2 linked regions of the Homo sapiens genome follow. The protein of the gene in region 1 interacts with the protein of each later gene in a pairwise test. Each region holds a gene or a part of one and is shown on either strand. Other genes may lie near its edges.

Region 1 (7,160 bases):
AAAGAACAGAAATTTATTTCTCACAGTTCTGGGGGCTGGAAAGTCCAAGATGAAGGTGCTGGCATGTTCAGCGTCTGGTCAGGGCCTGGTGTCTCCTCCCGAGATGACAGCTTGTTACAGCATCCTCCAGAGGGGAGGAACATGGTGTCCTCACACAGCAGAGAGACAAAAGGGGAAAAGGGACCAAACTCCCTCCATCAAGCCCTTTCACAAGGCACTGAGCCATTCACGAGGGCGGGGCCTCACGATCCAAGCCCCTCTCCAAAGTGCCCCCTCCACTGACGCACTAGGCAGGTCAGTCTCTAACACACGCTTTTGGGAGGTCACGGGCAGGGGACAGCAGAGTCCCAAGCCAGTCTGATTCTTTCCTTTTGTTGTTGTTGTTTGTTTGTTTTTGAGACACAGTCTCGCTCTTGTTGCCTGGGCTGGAGTGCAGTGGCAGGATCTCTGCTCACTGCAACCTCTGTCTCATGAACTCCAGCAATTCTCTTGCCTGGCCTCCTGGGTAGCTGGGACTACAGGTGCACGTCACTACGCCTGGCTAATGTTTGCATTTTTAGTAGAGACAGGGTTTCACATGCTGGCCAGGCTGGTCTCAAACTCCTGACCTCAGGTGATCCACCCACCTTGGCCTCTCAAAGTGTTGGGATTCCAGGCATAAACCACCGCGCCCAGCCTGATTCTTTCCCTTTGTTAGCAGATTCTTTCTAAATGGGTATCTGTAAACTTTCCTCTTTCTCTGTTTCTATAGTTTGGGTGTTGGTCCCCTTCAAACCTCAGGTTGAAATCTGAGCCCCAGTGTTGGAGGTGTCTGGGTCATGGGGGCAGATTCCTCACGAACAGTTTGGTGCTGTCCTCTTAGTAATGAGTGAGTTTTCACTCCTACTAGTTCCAGCAAGAGGTGCTTTTAAAAACACCTGCACGGCCGGCACGGTGCCTCATGCCTATAATCTCAGCACTTTGGGAGGCTAAGGCGGGCGGATCACGAGGTCAGAAGTTCAAGATCAGCCTGACCAACATGGTGAAACCCCGTCTCTACAAAAATACAAAAATTAGCCGGGCATAGTGGCGCATGCCTCTAATCCCAGCTACTCAGCAGGCTGAGGCAGGAGAATCGCTTGAACCCGGGAGGCGGAGGTTGCAGTGAGCCGGCATTGCGCCACTGCGCTCCAGCCTGGGCAACAGAGCGAGACTCCATCTTAAAAAAAAAAAAAAAGGCCTGTACTTCCCTACTCCTCCAGCTCCCTCTCGCACACGGTCTGCACACACTCCAGCTGCCCTTCACCTTCTGCCATGAGTGGAGGCAGCGGCAGCAAGGCCCTCACTAGAGGCAGACGCCCGATCTTGAACTTTTGAGACCTCAGCATCGTGAGCTGTGTTAGGCTGTGGTTGCCTTGCTATAAAGAAATACTTAGGACTGGGCAATTTTAAAAGAAAAGAGGGCCGGCATGGTAGCTCATGCGTGTGATCCCAGCACTCTGGAAGGCCAAGGTGGATGGATCACTTGAGCTCAGAAGTTTGAGACCAGTCTGGGCCAGTAAGACCCCATGTCTACAAAAAATATGAAAAATTAGCCAGGTATGGTGGCGTGTGCCTGTAGTCCCAGCTACTCAGGAGGGTGAGGTGGGAGGATCACCTGAGCCCAGGAGGCAGAGGTTGCAGTGAGCCGAGATCACGCCACTGCACTCCAGCCTGGGCAACAGAGCGAGACCCTGTGTCAAAATAAATAAATAAATAAATAAATAAATAATGAAAAGAGGTTTACTTGGCTCCTGGTTCTGCAGGCTTTACAGGAGGCATGGTGCTGGCCTCTGCTCAGCTTCTGGGGAGGCCTCCGGAAGCTTCCAATCATGGTGAAAGGCAATGGGGGAGCGGGCACGTCACATGGCCAGAGCAGGAGCGAGCGAGCGAGTGAGCGAGAGAGAGAGGTGCCCCACACTTTTTAAATAACCAGATCTCAGGAGAACTCACTATCTCAAGGACAGCACCAAGGGGATGGTACTAAACATTCCTGAGAAATCCACCCCCATGACCCAGCCACCTCCAGCCTTGGGGTTTACAATTCAACATGAGGTTTAGTGTGGACAAATATACAAATTACCTCATGATTCTTCATAAATTTCCCAGCCTCAGGTGTTTCTTGATAGCAACAGTAAAGGAGCTAAGACACTGTGGCGTTCAGTTGTATCAGGACAGACCTGGGTGTGGGCTGGCCCTCATACGTCCTGCCGGGAGCTCTGGGGGCTTTCCAGTCTGCAGGTCGGGACGTCCTTCTACTCTGAGATGTTCTAGTATCATCAAACCGCCCCACAGACCATGCCTGGAGACTCTGCCTCACACATCCGTTCCCAGCGGTCACCAGCCCCGCATCCCTCCCTCGTCACCGCATCTGTGCGTCTCCTCTGTGACGGAGGCTGTTCCTTGGCAATGACTATCCTCAGCTTCAGCCCCCTGCTGACAGTTTTCTAGCTCAGAACCTGGCCATGTCTGCACCCTCCCTGTCTTCTCGGAAGGGGTGCTGTCATTCCCTGGGCTACACACCTGCTTTGTCCTCCTCTCTCTGACCCCAGGGCTCCAGGGTACCACTGTCCTCTTCCTTTGTCAGTTTGTTGTGGCTGGGGCTGGTGGTGGGGGAGCCACAGCAATCAGCCTGCCTCACCTTGCCCAGCCCGCATGTTCCCAGGGCTCCTGCCATCCCCACTACACCACAGCCCAGTCCGTGTGCACGGGTTATAGAGTCAAGACACAAACACACAAAAGCCAGGCAGACGGGCACAGTACCTGCCGCAGCTGCATGAAGCTTGGGGCACTATGGGTGAGAAGAGCTAGAAATGTTGGGGCCATCAGAGCCCAGGAGGACCAGCCGAGGGAGGAGCAGCTGACAGGTGGGCAGGTGCCCCTAGTCAGGGACAGCAGGACTCCCCAGGAAGAAGGATCACAGCCACCCGTGGGAGAGCTGGACTCTGTTCATCAACAGAAAAGCCGTGAGCGATTCCGCCAACAAGGTCAGTTTTACTAGTCTGGCAGCCCCCCACCCCCGGCTTCTGTAACTCAGAAACTGGGCAGTTCCGACTGCCCATCCCTCATTAGTGACTGATGGTGGTCTGGCCGGCGGCATCTCCTGTCTCCAGGCCCTGCTATGTAATTTCGGGAATGGACGCCCGTCTCCCCGACCTGACCTCCAGCTGTTTGGAGCTGAGGGGTGGAGAGGAAAGACTGGGGGGTGGAGAAAGGCGAGCACCACTGTGGGGCCTGTGGGGGCTGCTTTCCTCTTCTGCAGTGACCTGGACGGGCTGAGGCTGCTGTCTCACTCACACGGCGGTGCCCACACCACAGCCCTGGTATGCTAATGCGTCAAAACACACCTTCACCTGTTTCACATTCTTGAGTTTCAGCGAGGATGCGACAGGTCTCGAGACACATGGACGTGGGACCATGGGGACGGGTTCTTCAAGGTCCCCATGCACCTGCAGCCTGGGGGGGCTTGTCTGAAGGGCTTTCTTCCCAGTGATGGGAATCAAAGGCCCCGATCTTTGAAGCTGGCCATCAGCCTGAACGTCCACTCCTTGTTTCCTTTGCAAGGAGGAACATTCAGATCCAACACAGATAAGAATGTTGACTCCGTCTCCAGGCCGCAGGGACTGGAGGGAGGCAGGTGGTCTGGCCTCATTTTGTGAAAGGTGGTGGCTTTGTCCTCAATCTTCAGGCTGGACATCAGGACCTCCCAGGGCGCGGGCCTGCTCTGTCTCTGGCCTTAGGTGTCAGGAGGTAAGGCCGCAGACGCTGACGTACTGGGATGCCCCAAGCCCGGGAACTGGCAGCCCAGTGAGGGGGTCTCACCTGTGTCCCCTGAGCCTGGCCTGTCACTCTGTCCACGCCTCAGCTACCTGTCCCCTCCTGCAAAGGGCACCGCCTGTCGCGAGGAACTCACCTGGCTTCCTCGACATCTCGGGGGACACACGAAAAGCCCCCGCGAGAGCAGCAGGAGCCTGCACGTGGAAGGGGCTGGCGGCCCGAGGTCCCGGGGTAACAGGAGGGCAGAGGGGCTGGGCACGGCGCAGGGTCGGGAGGAGGCCTGGAGCGCTCGCCCCGCCCGGCCCCGCCCCTGGAGCGCCGCGGCCCCGCCCCGCCGGGTTGCTAGGGGAAGTGACGTCACAGCGCGATGGCGGCGGCTCCTTTAGGCAGCTGAAAGGGGATTTAGGCCCGGAAGATCCGAGTCCATCCGCGGCGGGGAGAGGGCAAGCGGGACCGGTAGGGGCCGGAGCAGCGGCGGCGGCGCTCGGACTGTCCCATCCGCCCCGTATTGAGGCGCTGGGAGCGGCGGGGCGACAGGAAAGCGATGGTGAAAGCGGGGCCGTGAGGGGGGCGGAGCCGGGAGCCGGACCCGCAGTAGCGGCAGCAGCGGCGCCGCCTCCCAGAGTTCAGACCCAGGAAGCGGCCGGGAGGGCAGGAGCGAATCGGGCCGCCGCCGCCATGGAGCTGAGAGTCGGGAACAGGTACCGGCTGGGCCGGAAGATCGGCAGCGGCTCCTTCGGAGACATCTATCTCGGTGAGGCCCCGCCGCCCCCGCCCGCCGCCCGAAGACCCGGGCCCTGCGGCTGCCAAGACCAAGCGCGATCGCGGAAGGAAGTGGTGGCCCCCGCGGGGTCTCCGCGCAAGTCCCGGCACCGCCGGATCGTGGCCAGAACCCAACGGCCACTAGGCTAGCGCGGCCAGGGGTGGGGAGGGCAGTGGGGAGCGGACGTGGGGGAGGGGCAGGACCAGGTCGGGGGAGCAGGGTCTGGAGAGGGGAGGGTTGGGGAAGGAGGGGATAGGGGAGCTGACCCGGGGTGGGGCATGGTCTCTGGGGAGCCGACCTGGGTAGGGGCAGGGTCGTGGGGAGCGGACTCGGGAAGGGCTGGGTGGGGCGTGGGGAGGCGGGCCTGGGGGAGGGGCAGGGCGGGGGTGGGGGCAGCGGGCCGTGGGAGGGGAGGGGGTAGGGCTGGGGCCGCGAAGCGGGCGTCGGCTTCCTCTACGCCTAAGGTCACCGCAGTAAACAAAGGCCACGCTCTTTCTTCCGCAGCCCGGTCCGGGGCTGTCTGGCTGCCCCCTCAGAGGCTGCCCCGGTGTCTTGCATTCGTGGGGGAAAATGTCAGAAAGACCCAAATGCCGTGTGGAGCGGGGGAGTGGCCCGGCTAGGAGTGGGGCTTGCCCTCCCGCTGGGGGTTCTCTCTGAACGGTTCCCCTTGGCCTTGGAGCGGTGACTGAGTGCAAATGAGCAAGGGTTAAGTTTAGGTGAATGTAGAGAAAGTCACACAGGATTAAGATGCTGGCAAGATGAGAGGCAGATGAGGTAGTTGTACTCATGAGGTGTCCTTTAGACTGTAACAGTCTCAAGGTAGATTTCAAAAACAATGGGATTAGAAGGTTTTGGGTTGTGTCATATTTACAATGGAAAAATATGCACGTGAACACAAGTGTGATGAAAGGTTGGCTTAAATCTTCAAGTTTGTAATTTTTTTTTTTTTCCTGAGACGGAGTTTCGCTCTTGTTGCCCAGGTTGGAGTGCAATGGCGTGATCTCGGCTCACCGCAACCTCTGCCTCCCAGGTTCAAGCGATTCTCCTGCCTCAGCCTCCCGAAAAGCTGGGATCACAGGCGTGCGCCACCACGCCTGGCTAATTTCGTATTTTTAGTAGAGACGGGGTTTCTTCATGTTGGTCAAGGCTGGTCTCGAACTCCGGACCTCAAGTGATCCGCCCAGTTCGGCCTCCCGAAGTGCTGGGAAGCCACCGCGCCTGGCCCAAGTTTGTAATTTTAAAGTAACTTAATTTTCCGCACTTGTTAGTGGGATTGTGCAATGCACGAGTTATTCCAAGATCCCCTGAATTTGAGGATATGTAGCCTGAGGCGGTGTGCCTGCAGAGGGGCTGCTGCAGACCTTTGAGGGGAGCTGTTTTCTGTTCCAGCAGCCCTAGCTTTGGGGTGTGTTTTAACTGGGGCACCTGTCAGCTAGGGTCAGGAATCCCCTGGGATGTCAGTAATGCCTCTGGTCATACCTTTTAGATGAAGCCACATGTGGACAGTCTCCAGTTCTCACACCCTTCCCACTTGTCACCAGAGAGAGGACTCAGGACCCGGTGGGCTGACAGCGTTAGGACGAATCCACACATATGGGTGGCTCATACTTTCGGTGCCTGGTTAACCTGCCAGGTGACCCTGTCACATGCCATATTGTTGCTTTTGAACCTGTACATATGCCTTAGTGGACTGCTGAGTAAGCAGGCTTTAGACATTTGGGTTTGGCTATTAAACATTTATACCAGGTGGTCAGCTGGATGTGTTCTTGGCAGTGTTTGGGAAGTCAGAGTGCTTGGTCAATGGAAGTCGTTTGGCTTATTTATAGAACAATGGATTTTGGCGAAAGTTTTAACCCCAGGATCTGAGTTACACTGCAAAGCCAGTCCATTAGCCACCTTTAGGCAGGCATCAAAAAGGAGTATTTTGGGCCGGGTGTGGTGGCTCACGCCTGTAATCCCAGCACTTTGGGAAGCTGAGGTGGGCGGGTCGCTTGAGGTCAGGAGACCAGCCTGGCCAAAGTGGCGAAACCCCATCTCTACTAAAAATACAAAAATTGGCCAGGCGTGGTGGTGGCTGCCTGTAATTCCAGCTACTTGGGAGGCTGAGGCACGAGAATTGCTTGAACCTGGGAGGCGGAGGTTGCAGTGAGCCAAGATCACACCACTGCACTGCAGCCTGGGCGATGGAGTGAGACTCTGTCTCAAAAAATAAATAAATAAGAAGTACTTTGAAACTATCTGTTCTCTGATCTGAGACCTTGTCAAACAACTTTGTGCTTTCCAAAGATAGATTAAGACAAATTTTGGTGTGGTTGTCACCAAGTAATTCCAGAGGTGGAGGGTGGAAGGCTGTCTCCTCACTCAGCATTCTACCCTCCAGGCCTCACCTCGCGCTGGGCATACAGTCATGCTGGATACGGGATTGCGGGCGGCTGTGGCTCTGACACCCTGGGGTTGGAGCCCCCAGACAGCCGTCCCAGACAGCCACCCATCAGGGTACACGTCCAGTTACTTGAGTGGGGTTAGGCACAGCTGATTTTTTTTTTTCCCATCAGCATTGGCTCCTAGCCTACACTGTGGTCCTTTCAGACGACCCCACGGA
Region 2 (7,787 bases), on another chromosome or scaffold:
CCACTGCCACACAGGCCATCTGCTCCACGGCTTCAGGGTTGCCCTCAGGCCTCCTCCCCAAGCCCCAGCAGTAGCAGTGGCCCCAAGGACAAGCCCCAGTTCCCTCTCTGGGGCCTCCAATTTGGACAGTCTCTGTTCCTGGGATACTTCCACACTCCCTCTCTCCCTTCGGGCCATTATCCTCCTCTACATCATGCAACAGCACAGGAGAGATGACAGGGCAAAGGGAAGGATAGAAGGAATCCTGGTGGAGGCTGCGATCCCACTGCTCTGGTAGATCCCAACTTGTAGTCATCCTTGAAGAAGACCGAACATTTGAAATCCTGGTGGAAGACCCTCAGGACTCTGGCTGCCTGGGGACCACTGTATTTCTGGGAAGATTCTACTGCTGCCATCCCAAAAACCTGGACAGGCTCCCCATCTCCCGGGACTGCCTCCCTCCTCGGAGCCTTGAAGGTGCAGTATAAGATAAGCAAAGGGTCCAAGGGGAGGGAGGTGGGGAGAGGAGGGAAGGCCCAGAGATCTAAAAATGTCTGGAAGGAGCGGGGAGATCTGAGTCTCACCCTAAAATGAAGGGGATATCTTGGGGCCTAGAATAAACCCCAAGACACCTCCCTCCCAGCTCTGGCTCCTTCCCTGCCAGAACTGGAGCCTCAAAGGCAGAGCAACCATATAATTTATTGCACAAACAAGGACACTTATAAGAGTAAAATGGGCACTACTAATTATTATGCCAGGACAATAGGCATATGGCCACCCTACTCAAAAGCCACCTCTGATCCAGACCAGTGATGCTGGAGCTCAGACCACAGCAGAGGCCAACAGCCTTCCTTCCCTGAGGAGGCAGCTGAAGAGCCCACTCCCAGCCATGCCACGTGGCAGGTACCATCTTGACAGCCCCCACCCCCACCAGCCAGAACCTCAAAGGACTGGGAGGGGCTTCTCAAGCAAGCTCCAAATAACTGGTTTGGGATTCCTCAGGCAGCCCGCTAGGCCCGCAGCAGCTTAGCGCCTGCTCCTGGTGGTGACGTGGCAGGCAGGAGGCTGAACTATCTCCACCGGCCGGCAGAGGGGGGCTTCCAGCCTGGGAAGCAGGCCTGACTCAGGTCCCAGGGGGTGCCACATATTTGCCAGGGGACTCCAGGAGCCTTCTTGGCCTTAGTTCCCTTCCCATCCGCACATGAATCTCTGAAGGGAAATGCGCTACTGGGGAGAAGGGCAGCCCCACTGAACCCAGCAGCAGGAATGGGGGAAGGCAAGTTACTGCAAGCAGGCCAGCCTCCCACAGCCCAGCCCATCTTGCCACAGAGAAATGCCAGCCCTCAGGCCAAGGTTAGCTGAGTTACAGTCCCACAAAGAAAATACAAGATCACCTAGCCAGGGCTGTGCCCACAGCTAGCTGGACTGAGCAGGGTCTGGAAGGGAAGGGGAGGAGATGATGGGACCCCACCAGAGGGTCCCAAACACTTGAGAGGTCTAAAGTACCTGGAAACTGCCTCAGAGGGAGGTCAATGCCTGCCTTTTTCATTCTGAAAGAAAACAGAAGAGTGAAGAGGGCGGGAGCCGGCAAAGGAGAGATGGTGAGGAGGCCCCTGGCGCAGAGGGCACAACCAGTCCCCAATCTACAGGGACCTTGGAGATCGACCACCTCACTGTAAAATGGGAGAAACAAGGCCAGGGCAGGGGGTCACCCCAGGTCCCTCGGGATAAACAGGGGTCTGCCTTCCCAGCACAGGGGTCCTTCCTCACAGAAGCACAGAGCCCCTCCTGAGGGCTGCATGCGGTGTCCTGTTACACAGCCAGTACAAAAAAAAAATCTCTGCTGGGAGTCCCGGTGACAGAGGAGACAAAGGAGAGGACGGGAAGGGGGGATGGGTACATGAACCATCTGAAGACAGGAGGGTGTGGCCCCGGCCGGAATTCCGGAGAACCAAAGCCCCCTCATTTTCCTCAGGCCTCCATCCGGGCCGTACAGCCCAGAGGGACCAGCGGGAAACAAGGAAGAGGAGGGGCTGAGACTCTGGGCCAGTCTGGAAGTGCATTCATTCTCCTTCCTGCTCTTCAGCCACCTCAGGAATGTCTCTAAGCTGGGGGGCAGGGAACCCCAGCCTCTGGAAGTTAGACCCTGCAGTTTAAACCCTGCAGTTACTCCAAGAACCCTGTGGCAGTGGACAGAAGGAAAGACTCAAATCCTTCTAGTCAGCCCCTTAATCCCCAGAGCAGAGCAGACCCTGCTGACCCCCACTCTCTTTTTTCGGAGTGGTAGGGAGCCTCGCTGGCCAAGTCTTTCCTTTGGCTGCCATCATCTAGGCTGCAAGCTGCTGATCAGAAATTGAGCCACTGTCGCCCACTTCTACCAGAGCACACGGACCCCAGGAGTCGAGACGATTTCACCTCCTTTCCCACCACCGGAAGCTCAAATTCCCTCAGCAAGCCTGTGAGGAGGCTGGGCCACCAATCACCGCTGCCCCTGAGCCTCAACCCCAGAACGGAAGTGACCTGGAACTGCGAGGCCGGCCTATCCTCCCTACCCTTGCGGGAAGAGGCACCAGACCCATCTCCTTCCTCCTCTGTTTCTTTCCGCAGAGGCTCTGCTCTCTGCCCCCAGCCCCCTTTACACAGCACCTAGTCTCGTATCTGCCACCACCACCTTTTAGGGGTCCCTGCACTTTTTCCCAGTCCTCCGAGTGCACGGACTCCCAACCCGGCTCCGATCTCCGCCCTAGCCCTCAGCTGGCACCATCACTGGCTAGCCCTGGGCTCTCGATTCCAAACCCTCCAGCGGCCCCCAAAGTGCCGAGGACTCCAATTTGTAGGCTCTGGCTCGGCACCCAACGCTTCGCAGGGTCCCCTCGCCCCTCTTACTCCCTCGCGCACCCCCAGATTGCTCGGCGCTCCCCCGGGCCGCACGCACGCAGGCGTCTCCCGCCCCTCACCTGGGTCGGGCTGGGCTAGCGCCGGGACGTGACTCTCGCTCTCGAGCCGCGACACGATTCTACTCTTAGCCCGCTCCCCTGCTCCCGGGATCTATATATGGCAGTCCCCACCCCCTCCTGCCCGTCCCGAGAAACTTCTGGAAAGTTGGAAACGCTTCCGGAGGGCGCCCCAGCTCCGCCAAAAAAAGCCAAAGACCTCCCTCAAAACCTCCCCGGCCCCCGGCCCCTCCCTCTGCCGGCGCCTCCCGGCCCCTGGGTCCTACTGCCTCCCTCGGCGGCCCGGGCTGCGGGGCGCCGGGAGTCCCCACGGGGATCAGCGTGTCCTTCAGAGTGCGAGCTTCCTCCCACCCCCAGGCTCTCTGCATAAGCTAGCCCACTCCGAATCGCACGTCCTTTCAGGCGCCCCTTTCCCCGCAGGGGCTCTGCCCCAAGCAGAGCCATCTCCCCTTCTCCCCGCTCTCCCCCATTTTCAAGCTGAAACAATTGAGTCCTGTGCACCCCCTCCCTCTCAGGGGAGACGTTCAGGCTTCTGAAGGCAGTGCCCTTCTCCATACTTGTACATTCAAAAAACCTCAACCTCAGCGATGGCCAGAGGGAGAGGGAGCAGACCAGACCCGGTACCTGCCCGGCACCCGGAAAGTTCAAGTCGTGGAGTAATAGAGGCAGAGATGCCTGGGGAACTTCAGGTGGTCTGGCTGGGCTTGGAGGAGTGCACAGGAAGGAAAACCTGGCTCTCCACTGAGCAAGGTGCTGTGTGACCCTAAGCAGGTTACTTTCCCTTTCTGGGCCTCTGTTCCCTTGGCTGTGAAATGTGGTTCTAAGGCATCCCTTGCTTTTTTTCCCCCCTCTCTCCCTTCCTCAATCCTTGTCACCCCTGGCCCCCTCCCTATTGCATCCCCTCCCTCTTTGGGTCCCCTCCCACAGGCCTCAGGTCTCACTGTCAATTCCTACCCCACCCTCGCAAACTGATAGCTCCTTGACCTCCAAGTTAAGCTAGGGTATTCATTACTGTTCTAGGTGCTGAGGACACAGCTGAGAGCTGAACAAAGTCCTTGCCCTGTGCGATGTCCATCTGTGGGGTATGTACCTGTTAGTAGGGAATTCAGTGATTCAGTGAGGCAGATTATTTAGGAAACCCTAAATAATCTGGGCGACAGTGGCTCAATTTCTGATCAGCCGAGGCTCCCTACCCTCCGAAAAGTCCTCTTTAGTAGTTTAATGATAGCTATTGGATGGACGCAGTATGGAGAGGAAGGGACAGGGTAGGGACTCTTCATTCATTCAGTCATGAATGAATGCATTGAGTATCTTCTTTCTTCTAGGTGCTTGCCTGGATCCTGGGGAGCAAAAAAATCCCAGTACCCAGCAAATGAGTCAATCACCTGGGTCCCTGCCCTCTGTTAGTGGTTGTGGGGAAGCCTGGTGGTGGTGACAAACCTCTCTGTCTGGGTAGGCTTCTGCAGCTCAGAGTCTTTTGAGTACAAGGACTGTGGGAAATCTCAGATCCCAAAAGCTTCAGACTCTGTGATTCAGGGTCAAGGAATCAGAGATTACTTCCACTCAAAGCCCCCAAGGAGTCTTTGAATCCAGCTAAGGAATCTTAACATGTTAAAATCTCAGAGTCGAAGGATTCTGGAATAAATGTATTAAAGACTCTGAGCTGCAAGGCATCTCAGAGGTCAGGGGTTCCTGTCTGCAGCCCCAGGCAGAAGCCCTCTTCTCAGTATCCCAAAAAGGCAAGCACCGAGGCACCTCTAAGAAGAGAGAGCTTACCTCCTTCAGAGGCAGCCCCGCATTCTTTTTTAGGACAGGTCTGATTATTAACAAAAGCTTCCAGCCTTGGCATGGTGTCCATCTCTTTGGGGTGGCTGTCGTGGTTCTCATGTGCTTCCTCCTGCCTCAACTGTATATTGCTTTTAAAGATAAATTCTAGGCTGGGCGCGGTGGCTCATGCCTGTAATCCCAGCACTTTGGAAGGCCGAGGTGGGTGGATCACCTGAGGTCAGCAGTTCAAGATCAGCGTGGCCAAAATGGTGAAACCCCATCTCTAATAAAAATATGAAAATTAGCCAGCTGTGGTGTCATGTGCCTGTAATCCCAGCTACTCAGGAGGCTGAGGCGGGAGAATCTCTTGAACCTGGGAGGTGGAGTTTGCAGTGAGCCGAGATCATGCCACTGCACTCCAGCATGGGTGACAGAGCGAGACTCCATCTCAAAAAAAAAAGATAAATTCTTGTTTATCCAAGGAGACCTCCCGGGTCCCAGGCCAGACCCCACTCTCTACTCCCACCCCCACATTGGCCCTCAGGCTTCCTTGTGACTTGGTCAGTGAGCTGAGGGCAGGGCAGAGCAGAAACAAAGAGTGCCCATCAATGCTGGCAAAACAGAGAGGGTCGCCTGGGTTTTCAGCAGGTTCAGATGTCACAATCCCAGTGAGACTCCCTTCCTCTACTCTCTTACATCTCTTAGCTCTTTTAGGCTTCACCAACACCTGAGGGGGAGACTGAGAGTGCTGTGACTGTCCCATTTTGAGGGATAAACCAAAGCTCATGCTGTTAAATAGACCCAGTATCATGAGTGGTCACTGAAGAGAGGACCTGCCCTTACAGACAGCAAAGCTGAGGCCTAAGGAGGGCTGGGTCTGAAGGCCCAACCCCCATCCGACCCCCACTAATCTCACACCGGGTCAGAAGCCTCCTCTGTGACCTATCCCACTGCTGCATTATCTCTGTTATCACCCTGTATTGTCAGTGAACCATCACTGGAGACTTTGGAAGGGCAGGGCCTTTTCCTTGTCACTGTGAGTCCCCAGCTCCAGCAAGGGGACAGTATGGAAGAGGCACTGGGTAAGCATGGCTGGCCAGGGGATGAGAAGTGGCTGCCTGAGGCTGCTGTGCCCCTAGCACAGCCTCCCTGAAGAAGGGAAAGCAACGGCTCCTTTAAATTTCCAAGATCAGCAAAAAAAAAAAAAGTCAAGAGCCTTTGCCACAATATTCTTAGCTCTGAGCCCAGCCCAGACTGACTGTGGCCCTTCCCCCACATTCCAGGCAGAGCTTTCCGGAAAAAGCACTCTTTTAGGGGGTGGGGGAGAAGAGTCTGATAAGCAGAGAAACTCTCAAGCATTTTGTCTCTGGACTCCTCCAGTGCCTCGCTTCACTGAAGGAAGTGGTCCTGGTGCCTGGCACGTGGAGGCTGGCTGGAAATCCTCTAGATCCCTAGGTCCCGAGAGGTGTGGACAGCAGAAAGTAGAAAACCATCAAGTCCAACTGCATCCACACTATACAGAGAGGACAACGGAAGCCCAGAGAGGGCAGGAATTTACCCAAGGTCACACAGCATATCAGAGGTGGGGCTGGGCTGGAGCCTAAGCCCTGGACTCCCAGCCCTCTTTCTCCCACAGTACCCTCTAATGACCCAGGGGGGTATGTAGGCCCAGTTCTGCCAGGTGCTGTGGAAACAGCTTTCTTTGGCCCCAGTGGCTAGATTCACTCAGTCTTCACCCCATAGAATCCTAGGACAAAAACTTGCATGTCATTTAAGTGTGCAACACATTCACATTTATTATCATATTTATTCCTTTCAGGTAAGGAAGAATGTTCCAATTTTCAGCATGAAGAAACTGAGGATCAGGGAGACTAAGCAACAGGGTTAAGGGCACACAACAAGCCAGAGTCAGAGCTGGGTTTTGAATCAGGTCTGTTTATGCCATATCCACGGGAAGGCAGGGAGTGGACGAGAAGGAAGTGACATTTATGGGCCATTTTGCCGCTGCCAGGCCTGTGCTGGGCACCGTCATTAGTGTCTCACTTTTAATTATAGAACGTTAATCGGAAGGAAGTTTAATCCCCTTCTTTTTACATTGGTATAAAATTGGAGCCCAGAAAGCTCCGACAGCCAGTCCAGGGTCGGCCCCCTCCCTCAGGGAGCCAGGGCTGCTATAGGCAGCTCTTCTTTGAGATGCTGTCCAGGAGCCAAGAATGTGCTCTCAGCCCAAGGCATGAGTCAGGAAAACACGATTTCTGTAATCTTGGATTCTCTCTCTTGGAGCGTGGGGCCTTCCATCCAAAAAGGGCTGTCCTGCGTGCTGCCACGTTGGAGGGTGGGCAGCCGGTCCATGTGGGGGTGGGTGGGCACATGATTCCTCCCCTCCTCCTCCCAGAGCAGGCCCGCCCCTACCCGTCTGCAATCCTGGTGCTGAGCGAAGCCACATAGGAACTCCAGCGCCTTCACCCACATGCCTGGCACAATACCCAGGAGACACAAGCCCACTGACTCGCTATATACACAGGCGTATGTGCACCCACATACATGGTGCACACACGGCACTTGAGCAGCCCCTTCACACAATCCATGTACACACATGTCTGTGTAACTCCAGTAACCCAAATGCACCCCACCCCCCTACACAAGTTTTTGTTGGGTATTGACATATACACAGGATCAGGTTCCCCGCCCCCTCTCCCAGCCTCCCTCTCTCAGGCTTCCTCTGGCAACCCATGGAACCAGCTCCAGTGCCTGCAAGACCAGGCCTGAAGGGCTGGTGGGATGGAGGATGTGTGTTAACTACAGCCCTGCCTTTCCCTTCCCGTCTTGTTCTCCTCTCCCTTAGGTGCTGCTGAGCCTGTAATAACAGTGATGCCCAGGTGGGCTACAGGGCTGTCCTCCCTTGTCTTAGCATCCCTGACACTCAGAAAAGGGACTCCTGAGCTCTGACCACCCCCTACACCCTGCCAAACCACCTCTAATCTGCTTCAGCCCAGTTCAGCCCTGCTGTGCTATGGAGTGTGAAATGCCCTCACTTGGGGGTTAGGAGACCTGGGATCCTGCCCCAGGTCTGCCACTTCTTGGCTA

What was found. The genes of interacting proteins can lie anywhere in the genome.
Region 2: the proteins of CSNK1D (region 1) and SERPINH1 interact in binary tests that used the Homo sapiens proteins (3 or more experiments, as listed by UniProt).

Annotation. Positions count from the first base shown.
Region 1 is NC_000017.11:82,270,695-82,277,854, reverse strand, and holds the start of CSNK1D (casein kinase I isoform delta), read left to right. Parts: upstream 1-4,154; 5' UTR 4,155-4,473; coding exon 4,474-4,549; intron 4,550-5,752; exon of another isoform or gene 5,753-7,160. UniProt on the Homo sapiens protein: Essential serine/threonine-protein kinase that regulates diverse cellular growth and survival processes including Wnt signaling, DNA repair and circadian rhythms. It can phosphorylate a large number of proteins.
Region 2 is NC_000011.10:75,557,469-75,565,255, reverse strand, and holds the start of SERPINH1 (serpin H1 isoform 1 precursor), read right to left. Parts: upstream 3,004-7,787; 5' UTR 2,937-3,003; exon of another isoform or gene 2,878-2,936; intron 2,784-2,877; exon of another isoform or gene 2,240-2,783; intron 1,530-2,239; exon of another isoform or gene 1,486-1,529; intron 1-1,485.